Linked DNA regions of Homo sapiens. The protein of the gene in region 2 purifies or fractionates together with the protein of the main gene of each other region. This does not show direct contact. Each region holds a gene or a part of one and is shown on either strand. Other genes may lie near its edges.

Region 1 (3,500 bases), on a different chromosome or scaffold from region 2:
CTCTTGTTGCCCAGGCTGAAGCGCAATGGCTTGATCTCGGTTCACCACAAACTCTGCCTCCTGGGTTCAAGTGATTCTCCTGCCTCAGCCTCCCAAGTACCTGGGACTACAGGTGTGTGCCACCACACCAGGCTAATTTTGTATTTTCAGTAGAGACGGGGTTTCACCATGTTGGTCAGGCTGGTCTCGAACTTCTGACCTCAAGTGATCCACCCGCCTCAGCCTCCCAAAGTGTTGGAATTACAGGCGTGAGCCACCACGCGCAGCCAAAAATCTCTTATACAAAATAAAAATACTTTAAAATAATCTACCTAGCATGGTGGCTCATGTCTGTAATCCCAACACTTTGGGAGCCCCAGGCAAAAGGATTGCCTAAGGGCCGGTAGTTTGAGACTAGCCTGGGCAACACAGCAAGACCCCGTCTCTACAAAAAATAAAAATAATTAGCTGAGTGTGGTGGTGCACACCTGTAGTTCCAGCTACTCAGGAGGCTGAGACAGGAAGACTGCTTGAACCCAGGAGGTTAAGGCTGCAGTAAGCCATGATTGCACCACTGCACTCTAGCCTGAGTGACAGAGTAAGATTCTGTCTCTTAAAACAAACAAACAAAACTAAATAAGGTGACAACACGTCCCCATCAGAATTTTTTTTTTTTAGACAGAGTCTCACTCTGTCACCTAGGTCGGAGTGCAGTGGCACAATCTGGGCTCACTGCAACCTCTGCCTCCTGGGTTCAAGCAATTTTCGTGCCTCAGCCACCTGACATAGCCAGGATTACAGGCATGCGCCACCAGGCCCAGCTAATTTTTATAATTTTAGTAGAGAAAGGGTTTTGCCATGTTGGCCAGGCTGGTCTTGAACTCCTGGCCTCAAGCAATCCACCTGCCATGGTCTCCCAAAGTGCTGGGATTACAGGGGTGAGCCACTGCGCCCAGCCCCCATCAGAATTTTGAAAACTTAGCCACTGAACCAGTTTTTTTGTGCTTTCCAACTAAGTTAAGTCACAAATTGTAAGACTGATGTTCCTTAAATATAAGCAAGCATTCAACCCAATTTATTAGAAATGATATGTATACAGAAGCTGCCAAAAAATAAAGTAAATGTCTTCTGATAATTCCAGTTTTGAGAACATCCTAATTAACAGACATCACAGCTATAAAGCAATTTGTTACTCTGTCACTGGTACTAATTAAAATTCAGACAAAAATTTCATGTGGCACTTGGCACACAGCCAACTAATTACCTTTAGTTTAAAGTTCTCCAGTACTTGTCGGAAAAGAAAAGGGTTACCTCCTTTGGCACCATTTAAAAAAGCTTGCATCCAATCCTCACAAAACCGGTTACTTCCTATAAAACATTTCAGAGAGACTAAATAAAATGAAATTTTACAAAGCTTTATTTATTTATTTATTTGAGACGGGAGATTCGCTCTTGTTGCCCGGCTGGAGTGCAGCCGGAGTACTAACTATATCGTTAGTAGAGATGGGGTTTCACCATATTGGCCAGGCTGGTCTCAAACTCCTGACCTCAGATGATCCACCTGCCTCAGCCTCCCAAAGTGCTGGGATTACATGTGTGAGCCACTGCGCCTGACCCATTTATTTCTTTATAAAAACACCTATAATGAATTATTTAAGACATGTATAATGGCCTAAAAAAACAGTGTGCTCACCACATGGCTAAGGAATACCAAAATGGCTGAAGCCCCCTGTATGCCCCTTCCCAATCACATCCCCCTTCCTTTCCCATCAGAGAGGATAATCATTCCCACAGACGTCTTTAAACTTTTCCCATATACCTTTGCACGTGTAAGCCTTATCTACATTATTCTGCATATGTTAAAACTTTTATGTATTTTTTCTTTTATGGCTATTTCACTAAATAGTATGTTTGAGAGCTATATTGACACAAGTAGCTCTAGTTCATTCTTTTTCACTGCTCTGTTATATTCCATTGCATGAATATAGCAGCTTATCAGTTTTCTTGTTGATAAACACTTAAATTGCTTCCAATTCCTTGCTTTTTCAAGTAATGCCTTTATGGACATTTTAAAATTCATCTCCTTGTGTACACATACTAGAATTTCTTTATGTACCTAGGTGTGGAATTGCTAGGCATGGCATGATTTCCATGTTTCTAGAATTATATTGTTTTCACCAAGTGGTTTCTCATGGTTTGAGATAACCATGTAAAACTGCACAAGGCAGGAAGAATAAGGTTGTATCATAGGCTCTCAGTGCAAAGATGGGGACTCGCAAGAGATGTAGGAAGGCTGCTTCAGAGGTTGTAGCTCACCTGCATTGCAGAACTGAGGCTGGGAGCTGCTGCAATCGATGACCACAGACTTATGCTGCTCCTCTGTCATGGCCATGCACAAAGAAGTCATGGTGCCTTCATGAATAAGTCCTTGAAGACTGGCCACACTCAGAAACCTGCCACACACACAAGTCCATTTCCACAAACAATATTGCAGGACGGAAGGATGAAAACAAATTTATTTTGCACTGGGCTGGTGGGGAAGGGATGGAAGGAGCAGTTTACAAACACAGATGTCAATCTTGCTGTGGAAAAGCTTTTCTCTTTGAAAAAACTGTTCTTTACCTGTTAATGTCTCTCTTTGTTTTTTCATCTGATTCTTTAACTTCAACAGGAGTGTAACTCAAAGCCTATGAGAGAAAAATAAAGCCTGATTGGTACATATATTCCAGTTTTTCTTGAGCAGCTACTCATGACTAAATGTCCCCATAAGTCCCTACCACACTGGACAACAATTGATGGGCACTGGTCACAAGCTCTCCAGAGCCTTGTTCAGCCACTGCTCATTAACATTTTATAGAATCAAAATTGCTCTGGATTTTTGTTTTCCTTTTCAAATTGTTTTGGAAACTATACCTTTCCCAGATCACTTGGAAAAGTAATTATTTTAAAATGTTTTATCCTATTAGGAAGACTCAGCATTTGAAATTCAACTCTACCTTAGTAATATCACTTTCTAGATCTGAGAAAATAAAGTGTGGTCTATCTTGATAGCAAGCATAGTTTGAATATTTGGGGAGGGATGGGAGTCATGTTCAGAGAAAATGAGTATGTTTCTAAATCATCCAAAGTGATTCTCAGTTAAGGAAATGCTCTCATTTGGCAGTACTTACAGCATGTAGCAGAAAGGTAAGCTTTTCCTGAAAGAGAAGAACAACCCTTTGGATTGGGCATACAACATCCTCAAACCAGCTGCTCAGATAGGATTTTATGTGACTCTCCAGGCCCCTTGCCTAAATCAAGAAAGAACATCATTTGCTTTAATATAAGCCTTTCCTTTAGTGGACTTCATATTTTCTTCATCATATCCTTGATGGTGAAAAAGACCAGGATAGACACCTCCCTTTTTAAAGCTAACACCACCAATTCAAAAAAAGAAATTGTGATATACCTTTCCTGGCTTGTTGGGCAGGGTGAGGGTTAAATCTGTACTGAATTTATTTAAAACACACCAAGAAATGCAT
Region 2 (3,500 bases):
GGATGGTGAAAGACACTCCCCCGTCATCCTCATGCCCCCTCCAAGACTCACTCTTTAGCGAAGTAATGGGAAGCTGGGCATTGAGAAGAAACCACAAGTGTTTGCCCCCCAAATGTCTTGTCTTGAACCCCTAGACTCATAAAAGAGACGAGGTAGAAGGAACAGGGAAGAAGTGAAGTTTAAAAGTCCCCACATACTTGTCATTGAAGTACTGCCCGCCTCGGTGGATCTGATTCTCCAACGTGAAGTTAAAAGTTACATGCTCTACGCGCTCCCCGGGGAACACTTTGGTGCGGGATGCGTAGTCCACTGCCTGGAGATGGCGGATCATGTCAGGAAACCAGACGGTCAGGCCATAGTAGCTGAAGAGTCAAGGACAATGGAAACAGACAACAGGGCTTCAGACAAGGCTCAGAGATTAGAATCAGGCAGAGGAGAAAACGGAAATGTGTATCATCTCAGAACAAGGGAGAAATGGAGTCAACCTCTGTTAGGACCTTGCTCCTCTCCAGCCTCACCAGCTTCTCCCTGCTCCTCCCTTCAACAGTTGCTGCGCTCCTGGGGGACTTCAGGGTCTCGCACAGCAGCCACTATACTTTTTCTTACCTCCCAAGCATTTGCTTTTCCCTCTGCCAAAAACACTCTTCTCCACCCCAGCCACCCCCACTCCACCTGTCTGACTCCCATTCACCTTTGAGGACTTAGGTCCCCACCCCAGCCCAAGCCCCAAGTGCTCCCACTGCCCTTCCCCCACCCTTCTCTCATCACCCTGCTTCATAGCAAGTTTCGTCTCACTTCTTTTTTTTCTTTTGAGACGGAGTCTCGCTCTGTCACCCAGGCTGGAGTGCAGTGGCGCGATCTCGACTCACTGCAACCTCTGCCTCCCGGATTCACACCATTCTCCTGCCTCAGCCTCCAGAGTAGCTGGGACTACAGGCGCCCACCACCATGCCCGGCTAATTTTTTGTATGTTAGTAGAGACGGGGTTTCACCGTAGCCAGGATGGTCTCGATCTCCTAACCTCATGATCCGCCCGCCTCGTCCTCCCAAAGTGCTGGGATTACGAGCCTCATCGTCCTGCTTCTTAACCAAAACATAAACTCCAGGAGGACCTTGGACCACATCTGTTTCATCCCAGCACAGAATAGAAACTGAATCCTGGTCAGCCTACAGTACAAGTTTGTTGAGTGAACTAGCGAAGTAGAGGAGCTGGCTGCAGGATCAGAGGGGGTCTGCATGGCACCTTCCCTCATCGCTTGTCCCCTGCATCTCCATTCTCCCCACCTCTCTCCCAGCCCACACACCACCACAACCACCACACATCACCCAGCCCACCCATCTCCTCACCTGAATGACATGGTGAACCACACACCCATCATCATCAGAGTGATGCGCCGATATTCGGGACCAAAACAGGAGAGAAAATTCCCCCAAACCTACAGGGGACCAGACAAAGTCAGACCTTGACTATACTAAGTTCTAGCACCCATAGATCCCCACTTTTCTGCCCTCCCACCTCCCTTCAGCTCACCCATCACCCACACACATAGACTTCAGTCCTGCCTTCTTCTCCACTTCCCCCACTCCCTTCTATCTACCACCCCGTCCACCATTACCTGCCCCCCTAGGCTCAAGGCCCGGACCCCCCAGCGCTGGTACCAGGTCCCTGTGTCCGACTGGATCTCAATCAATTCATCCTCCTGATGAATCGTCTTAATGTGGGTTACCTGGGGTCAAGAGAAGGGGTGGGCAGTCACACACTCTGTGTTTCCCAACATCGGCCAGGCGCCTCAGTTTCCCCTGCATTAGCAAAATGGGAGGCAGGAGGTGGATATGATACCCTGAAAATCTCCTTACGGTAGAGTGTGGTCTGAGGTGGGGGGTACTCAGAGAGGGGCCAGGTAGGGGCTGGGGCTGCAGGGCGTGGAGGTCTGAGTCGGGAGGGCTGTGGCTTACTGAGAACACTCGCTCAGGATGTCCTTTGGCTCGCATGTTGGTATCATGGACCTGCTTCAGCACCATCCAGGCCTCATCATGCTTTCCATTCTAGAGCCAAAGACACAATCCCCACATCCAAGTCAGCCCCTACCTGACCCAGAGTTATAGACCCCCTCCCTCCCACCTGGCTTCTGTAGTCACAGGACACTAAATGGTTCCCAGCCCTCAACCCCACCACCAAGCCCTGACCTATGGGCATGCACTCACCACTCTGAAAGAGCCCCAAGCTGAGGTATAGCAAGACAATCAGACTTGGGCAAGAGCTGCGGGTTGGGGGTGGGGAGTGTTGTCCAGGGGAAAAAGGCAAGCACAGGTCTTGGGAATTCCATAGTACAGAGGAATGTAAAAACCAAAGGTAAGGGAAATGATGGGCAAGCATGTAGTCAAAGACCTAATCCTGCTGGGGTTAGGAGGGGAAGGTATAGGGGGTGGGAATGTCTCTTGAGCTGTAAATGCAGGACAGGGCCAAGGCCCTTCCCTGCAAAATCTTAAGTCATCCATGGGTAAAGAGGTCCCCTGGTTTCTCCACCCAAGAACCCCTCAGGGACACATTCCAAGGCAAAGAATGCAAGATAAAGTCCCCTGGAGAGTGGACTCTGTGAGGAAGGCAGGCAGTCAAACAGGATCAAATCAAACTCCAGTTGGTGTTTGAACACAGAAGCCCCTGCTGCCGTCCACACTCCACAGCCCGCACCCCACCCCACCCCATGCAGCTCAGCCCCATCACCTCTAGGAAGAAACGGGGGCTCTCAGGCTGCGTGGTCAGAGCCCCAATGGCAAACACAGAAGGAAAGGCGCAGACGAGGACGAAGACCCTCCAGCTGTGGAACTGGTAGGCAGAACCCATCTGAAAACTCCACCCTGGTAGGGAGAAAGTGACAGCATCAGCAGAGAGGCCAGAGGCTGGGGGAACCCACCACAGGGAGCACAGAAGAAGAGGGAGGAGGGAGATAACCTGGGGTGGATTTCCGGGGGCTGCTCACCATAGTGGGGGATGATGGCCCAGGCCATAGCAGCTGCGTACACGCCACCAATCATCCAAAACATGCAGAGCCAGCTCAAATGCTCCCCTCGTTTCTCCTGGGCCAGAAACTCGGAGAAATAGGAGAAGACAATGGGGATGGACCCTCCAATCCTGAAGTGCATTTCAAGAATTCAGCATTAGCAAATGGCCATAGTCCTGATCCCCTGCCCCACTGCTCTGGACCCCGAGCCCCTTTTGTCTTCCAGGCTTTTGAAGAGACTCCATCTCACACATAAAGCCTTACAAGCTCCCATGTGGGCCAGCCATCAAGCACCCATCCTTGGGACCATGGGAAACAGGCAAGCGAGTCTCAGGGAAAGGGAAAGAGCAAATCTTAAATCTTGAAAATGAATTACAGAGTTGGAAGGGCGGGAAAGTAATTGCAGAAAAGAGAATAAATCTCCAGAGAAAAAAGACAAGCCAAAAGCCTCCAAGGGCAGATGTTGTGGGAATGGCCAGAAAGGAGCTTGGAGTTGAA
Region 3 (3,500 bases), on a different chromosome or scaffold from region 2:
CCATGATGACGGGCATCTGCTTGTCAATCAGTGCCAGGGGCCCGTGCTTCAGCTCCCCAGCCAGGATGCCTTCTGAGTGCATGTAGGTTATCTCTTTAATTTTCTGGAAACAGGAGGTGAGATCAGAGTCACACTGGGCAGATGGGGCTGGAGCAGATCAGCCAGAGGGGAAGAAGGGGAACCAGGGGAAGGATGACTCTGGAAGGCAGAGAGCCAAGGGTTGCAAGGCAGACAGATGCCTGGAGTGCTTGACAGCACTGAGGACACCCAGCAAGGGCCTGGGGAGAGGCCTGGCTACCATCCAGAGCATGCACCAGCCCGGGACACAACCTCTGTGTCCCCACACCAGCCCCGGGCACTGCTGTTGTCTCTCTCCAGTCCCACGCACAGCCACCCCTTAGGACAAACAAGTCGGAGTCAGCCTAGCTCACCCCCTGCTCCTCCCTAGCCAGCCACGTGTATAACGACAGCATCGTATTCAGCTTAGCTACACCTTCAGTTAATTATCTGATTAAGCATTTGCCCATTAATAACTTCTAAAGAGTGGTTCCAAGCAAAATCACACAAACTGGGGTGTTATTTGAATTAATTTTTTTCCTGTGTTCAGGTAGATCCATCTCTATTCAGTTACCACAAATCCACGTCATTGAAATGGTGAGACAGTCAAATAAATCATCTCTCGACTCCCCGCTAGCACTGCTGATTTAGGTCAGGGCCACACTGTAAGGAGTGCGGCTCCAGTCTGGAGGCGCAGACAGCTGCAGTGCCGGCCTCCCAGTGACCAGAGGACCATGGGCTCGTGCCAGCAGCCACCTAAACGCTTCTTCCTTCAGCAGACTCATGCGGAGGCATAGCTGCAATGTGCATCTCCCGCCAGCACGTTCAGCCACCGCAGCTCAGCCCCCACCCATGACGCAGAGTCATCTGGGGACTGACAGTGCACCCCAGGCCTTGCCTCTACTGCACTCCAAGAAGCAGCACCTGCCTGTTCTTTAACAGGAGTCAGAATCTCCAGGGGGCAGGTGCAGGAGATGGAGCTCAGTGAGGACAGCCCTGCACTCCCCACCAAGACCAAGGAAATCAACTCTGAATGTTTCCGGTAACCACTTGTAACTGGCATTGTCTTTCTTTTTTTTTTCTTTCTTTCTTTTTTTTTTTTTTCGTTGAGATGGGAGTCTCGTTCTGTCTCCCAGGCTGGAGTGCAGTGGCATGATCTTGGCTCACTGCAACCTCCTCCTCTTGGATTCAAGCGATTCTCCTGCCTCAGCCTCCCATGTAGCTGGGATTACAGGCGTGCACCACCACGCCCAGCTAGTTTTTGAATTTTTGGTAGAGATGGGCTTTTACCATGTTGTCCAGGCTGGTCTCGAACTCCTGACCTCAAATGATCTGACTGCCTTGGCCTCCCAAAGTGCTGGGATTACAGGCGTGGACCACTGTGCCAGCCTAGCATTGTCTTTCAAATGGGGGTGGTGGGGAGGAGATGGGAGAGGATGGCAGCCCAGCTGGGCCACGGTTAATGCCCTCGTCTTGGTGGCCAGTGCAGCCTCAGCTGGAGCACTGTCCCCGTCACCTGGGCTGAGCATCTGCTCCGTGCATGGCATGCTGACAGCGAGGAAAGGGCAAGTCCGAGATGCAGGACCCTGCACGGCTCTCTGCCCACCCTCTGGGCAGCCCTGTGGCCCTGGCACCCTGTCCCTGCCCCATCAGCTTTCTCTTTCCTGGCGTGGATCTTTAATGCTGCAGGGGGCAAATGGCCTGTCACCAATTTTTGAAAAAGCAAGGCCTTCGAAGTTAATTCCTGCAGGATCTCAAACTCCCCTTGGAAGTTTGAGGGGTAACAAGGAAACTCTGCGGAGAACCCACCCCTCAATTTTGGTGGAAAAAAGCGAAGGCCCCATGGACTCAGGTCTGATTCGGGTCCCCTACGTCATCTTGAGTGAGATACTTAAGCTTTCAGAGGCTTTGTTTCCTCCTGAATGAGGGTGAATAGCAACCGCCAACCTCTCAGAAGCAGCTCATGAGGTCTGAGTGAGCTGTTCCAAGTGGACCCTGGCAGTGCCTGGACAGCCGGAGGGGCACACCCCAGGCGCCCTGTCCCTTTCTCCTCAGTAGATTGGGAGATCCCTGGGGGCAGGCACCTGCCTCACCCATCTCTGTGTGCCCAGGGCTAGAAACCTGGTGGAGAGCTGGTGCTCAGCGCAGGCTCACAGGACTGGCCAAGGGGTCCTTAGGCCCGGCCCTCCCCAAGCCCAACGCCCTGCCCTCCTTCCCGCTGGCTCCTCAGGGTCTCCTGTGCCTGTCCTCCGTGGGGGTGGGGGCTGGGGGTGGGGGCTCACCAGGGCTCCTTCCAGGCAGGTGGCATAGTTGTAGCCCCGCCCCATCACCAGCAGCGATCTCTGCGTGTAGAGCTCCAGGGCCAAGTCGTGGATCTTCTCCTCCAGAGACAGCACTTCCTTGATCAGCTCTGGGCCATGCACGGAGCAGAGGGAGAAAACCAGTCAGGCCGACTTTAAAGCAATATTCATGAAGACAAATGCTGGGGTTTAAGAGGAGCTTTTGAAACCGCATCACTTAGCACACTTTGCTTCCTCGCATTCGTTTCAAACGTAGATTACAGGAAATAACTTGGGCTCCTGGCCAGGATTCTGTTAGGATGGGGATTCGTGTTGTGTGAACACTTTCTTGAGCACCAACAAGGTAGGAAGTACCATTTCTCACTCCGTTTTGCAGGTAAGACAACTGAGGCTCAGAGAGGCAAAAATCACCCACTGGAGACAGAGCTGACACCACCAGTTAACACCCCTCTTTCCTGCTGTGTCTCAAGACAAGGCCCCTGTAAGTGGGACCACCGGTTCTCAAACCCTTTGGTCTCAGGACTCCTTTACACTCTTGAAAATTATTGCAAGTCCCTCAAATTATTGCACATCCCCAAGAGCCTTTGTTTTTGAGTTAAATCTGTCAACATTTACCAGATTAGAAAATAACACTGAGGACCAGGCGTGGTGGCTCACGCCTGTAATCGCCGCACTTTGGGAGGCCGAGGCGGGTGGATCATGAGGTCAGGAGATCGAGACCATCCTGGCTAACATGGTAAAACCCCGTCTCTACTAAAAATACAAAAAATTAGCCGGGCGTGGTTGGGTGCGGTGGCTCACGCCTGTAATCCCAGCACTTTGGAAGGCTGGGGCAGGCGGATCACGAGGTCAGGAGATCGAGACCATCCTGGCTAACATGGTGAGACCTGGTATCTACTAAAAATACAAAAAATTAGCCGGGCATGGTGGCGGGCGCCTGTAGTCCCAGCTACTCGGGAGGCTGAGGCAGGAGAGTGGCGTGAACCTGGGAGGCGGAGCTTGCAGTGAGCTGAGATGGCACCACGGCACTCCAGCCTGGGCAACAGAGCGAGACTCCATCTCGAAAAAAAAAAAAGAAGAAAAAGAAAGAAAGAAACTAACAATGAGAAATTTAAAAATATTCACTTTAAAATAACAACACTA
Region 4 (3,335 bases), on a different chromosome or scaffold from region 2:
AAAATAAGATTTTATAATATGCCTTAATGACACTCCATTGGATGGATGTTCATTTTCTCTTACACTTCTTTAATCCAATTATGCTTTTCTAGAAACTGGACACCACTGATCCAGGTCAAAGAAAGAATGATATGTAAAACTAAATGAGATATTTCCTGACGTATTTTTAATAATTATAAAATTGATGTCATATTAATAATTTCTCCAGTGACTTTTGAGATACCTACCAACCCATATTAAAGGCAATTTTTGAACTGTTCTTGGGTCAGCTTGATCCCAAAGCTGAAGAGATTGAGGAAGGATGTTTCTCCCAGATGGTAAATTATTGAGTAAAGAAATTGCTCAGTTTAATCACTTATGAAGGCTAGGTTTTCCAGTATAATAAAACAAACAGCATACCATAATCCCTTGTTAACTTTTCAAGCTGCTCAGCAAGCATGTTTTGGTGAATATGAACAGAAACATATCAAGTGTGAATAAAAGGAAACAACAAAACCTTGTCAGTGTTTTTGAAAAAGAATACTGCTATACCTGTGTTTTATTTTAAATAAACAGGTTCTGTCATATTTTATCTTCTTGCCAGCAAATGAAGGACATTGTTTCATAAAGCTTCTAAAATGTACATGAATATTTAATTAAATCATATTTCCTTGAGAAAATAAAGTTCATTCGCATTTATAGCAGACAGTTGTGAGGAGCTCATAATTGTCATAAGACCAGGGTAGCCAGTACCGGTTGCTTGTGGAACAAAACTCCTCAATTTTTAAAACTTTTTTTAAAAAATAAACATACAATCATAGGTATTCATTTACTTTAAAAATTCTAAAGATGAAGAAAATTATTGTTTATATATTTAAGTCCTTGTATAAATTACAAAACTCAAGTTTATGTTACAGAGTCCCTTCCCCATAGGAAGCATAAAGCACTTTTGTGGTACCTTTCACCAGTAAATATTTGTATCACATTGAATTTGAGAAACCAAATAAAAGTCGATATTGCATCTTTAAGCCCCAAGAGAACATTCTTCTAAGCTGTCTCTTGTGATGAATGCGTTTCAAAAGTCATTTGATTGCTATGATTTAACTCAATCTCAAATAAAGTTATATAAAAGTAATAACATATTGACTTCAGTAGAAATCTGAAACATCAGTGAACTGCAGACTCTTCTTGCTTGAGGTCAACAAACACCCTTAGGAAGACAACCAAGAGTAGTTTAAGACCAGGACAACAAAATAAAATTATAACAATAATAATAATAAAATAACAATAATACAATAAAAATAACAACAACCAACAATGAGGTAAACTCCCCTTAAAAAAGGCAAAATGTGTTGCCTGGACTGTCAGGAGAGAGTTCGATTGTACCTGACACCTAAATGTTTTTCAAGCCAGAGTTCAGCCAGTTGCATGGTTGAGGCGAAAGTACTTGCCTTGGATCCTAAGCACATCTTATACTGCTTAGGGTCCAAGTTAGGATCACAATGAACTGGATGGAAAATATGCACCACTCCTACTTCTTGGCTTCTGAATGGCCTTAAGCCAGATAGAATGACTTTATTGTAGAGATCTACATCTTCTAGTCCCCAGCCTTGTATTGAGGTATCAAATCCACCTGCACCTAGAAGATCACTTTTGTAAATACAGGTGATGCCATATCCATAGTCTCTCCAAAATCCAGTCTTTTTTGAGAATATGAAGTAATCATCAGTGGGAGGATTTCCCCCGTTTGTTACCTTTGGGTCATACTGGCTAAAGATGATGGGATAGTACACCTGTTGTCCCTGAATTGTATTGTCTCTACATCGTTGGAGAAAATCTTCTCTGAAGATCAAGTCAACATCACAAAATAGCAGCAAAGTGTCATTGTCAAACTGGGCAGAAGCCATTTCAAGACCAAGACCTCTGGAAAACTCTCCCTTCATTGGGATCAGGGTCATTTCTGCTTTGGGGTACTTGTTCTGGTACCCTTTTATCAGCTCAATATGCTTGCTGGAGTCTTGGCCAGAATCCCTACTGAAAAGGATAATGACCAACTTTACATTCTGCTTTGGGATAAGACACATGTTTTCAAAGTTCTCCATGAATCTCAAGAAAATGTCATACCTTCCGATGAGAGGAACGAGAATGTGTACTTTCTTTTCATTGTGCCCTCCCATTTCTTTGGCACCTTGAAAAGAAGATAATATCTTTAAAGAATTAGATATAAAGGAGAATGACTGAGTTTCACTGTTAATACTCTCCACAAGACTGTTGACATCTAGCTCTTCGGTCTCTCTGAAGAAAGGCTTGCTGAACAACTGCTGAAGATAGGCATGACGTCTCACTGGCACAGTCAGTTTCCTTCCCTTGTGTCTTTTGTATAAAAGGAGTAAATCCAAAATGTACTCCACCCCGTGCATGGGGTTAACTCTGCGGTAGCCATACTGAATTTCCTTGAAGTCAATGAGCCGTCCTCTGCTCTTGGCATTCTCATTGATCATCTCCATCACCTGTAGGACGGTATCATCCAGTGCTGTTCTTAAAATGCTACTGAGGCTCTGTCGAGGGGGCTGGTTCTCAGCTGCTGAGTATAGAAGCTTCCCTGTCAGGAACTCCCATTCTATCACTTCATTTCTCTCCCGAGGCTGGAAGTGGTTGAAAGAAGGTATCACTCCCAGCTGCTGGTCCTCTTTGCTCACTTCTGTGTTACTGAGCTTGCTCATCAGGGCACTTTCCCTGTGGAGCTGGATGGTGCGGTAGCGAAGTTCAGAAATTTTGCGGCTGAGCATGTAATTATGCAGCCTGTATTGGTATGCAGGCCTTTTGTTGGGATGAAGTGTTATGGCTGCATGGATTTTGCTATTGTGAAGGTCTTGGATGTAACCCTTCCGATTGTGTTCATAATTTTCATGGAACAGTTGTTGCATCTGAAAAGTAAAATTAAAAAAATCAGGGTTAATTTTAAAAGATTTATCTAAAAAGAAAACCAGCGATAAACTAAAGCATCTAAATGAAAATGTTAATACATTTTTGGTATGGTATTTCATAACAAAAATGGTTTGTAATATTTATATTATTTAAAATTAAAATAGTTTTATTATTTGTAATTGGTAGATGAAATTCCATGTACTTATCATGTACCACATGTTTTGAAGTATATATATATAATATATAGAGAATATACATATAGTGGGATGAGTAAATCTAGCTAATTGATGTATTCATTACCTCACATAGTTATTATTGTGGTGAGAACATTTATCATCTTTTTTTAGCATTTTAAAGTATATAATATAGTTATTAACTATAGTCATCATGTATTCAATAGATCACTTGAATTTATTCCTCCTATCTAA

The links. The genes of interacting proteins can lie anywhere in the genome.
Region 1: the proteins of SV2A (region 2) and C17orf75 purify together in Homo sapiens (affinity purification with mass spectrometry; 2 studies listed by BioGRID and IntAct, with this or other methods). This does not show direct contact.
Region 3: the proteins of SV2A (region 2) and GFPT2 purify together in Homo sapiens (affinity purification with mass spectrometry; one large-scale study listed by BioGRID and IntAct). This does not show direct contact.
Region 4: the proteins of SV2A (region 2) and CHSY3 purify together in Homo sapiens (affinity purification with mass spectrometry; one large-scale study listed by BioGRID and IntAct). This does not show direct contact.

What each region holds. Positions count from the first base shown.
Region 1 is NC_000017.11:32,332,174-32,335,673, forward strand, and holds part of C17orf75 (protein Njmu-R1), read right to left. Parts: intron 3,270-3,500; coding exon 3,150-3,269; intron 2,667-3,149; coding exon 2,602-2,666; intron 2,433-2,601; coding exon 2,296-2,432; intron 1,348-2,295; coding exon 1,244-1,347; intron 1-1,243. UniProt on the Homo sapiens protein: As component of the WDR11 complex acts together with TBC1D23 to facilitate the golgin-mediated capture of vesicles generated using AP-1. May have a role in spermatogenesis.
Region 2 is NC_000001.11:149,907,845-149,911,344, forward strand, and holds part of SV2A (synaptic vesicle glycoprotein 2A), read right to left. Parts: intron 3,134-3,500; coding exon 2,982-3,133; intron 2,860-2,981; coding exon 2,726-2,859; intron 2,047-2,725; coding exon 1,957-2,046; intron 1,728-1,956; coding exon 1,617-1,727; intron 1,437-1,616; coding exon 1,348-1,436; intron 363-1,347; coding exon 198-362; intron 1-197. UniProt on the Homo sapiens protein: Plays a role in the control of regulated secretion in neural and endocrine cells, enhancing selectively low-frequency neurotransmission.
Region 3 is NC_000005.10:180,304,837-180,308,336, forward strand, and holds part of GFPT2 (glutamine--fructose-6-phosphate aminotransferase [isomerizing] 2), read right to left. Parts: intron 2,468-3,500; coding exon 2,340-2,467; intron 104-2,339; coding exon 1-103. UniProt on the Homo sapiens protein: Controls the flux of glucose into the hexosamine pathway. Most likely involved in regulating the availability of precursors for N- and O-linked glycosylation of proteins.
Region 4 is NC_000005.10:130,183,800-130,187,134, reverse strand, and holds the end of CHSY3 (chondroitin sulfate synthase 3), read right to left. Parts: intron 2,907-3,335; coding exon 1,344-2,906; 3' UTR 501-1,343; downstream 1-500. UniProt on the Homo sapiens protein: Has both beta-1,3-glucuronic acid and beta-1,4-N-acetylgalactosamine transferase activity. Transfers glucuronic acid (GlcUA) from UDP-GlcUA and N-acetylgalactosamine (GalNAc) from UDP-GalNAc to the non-reducing end of the elongating chondroitin polymer.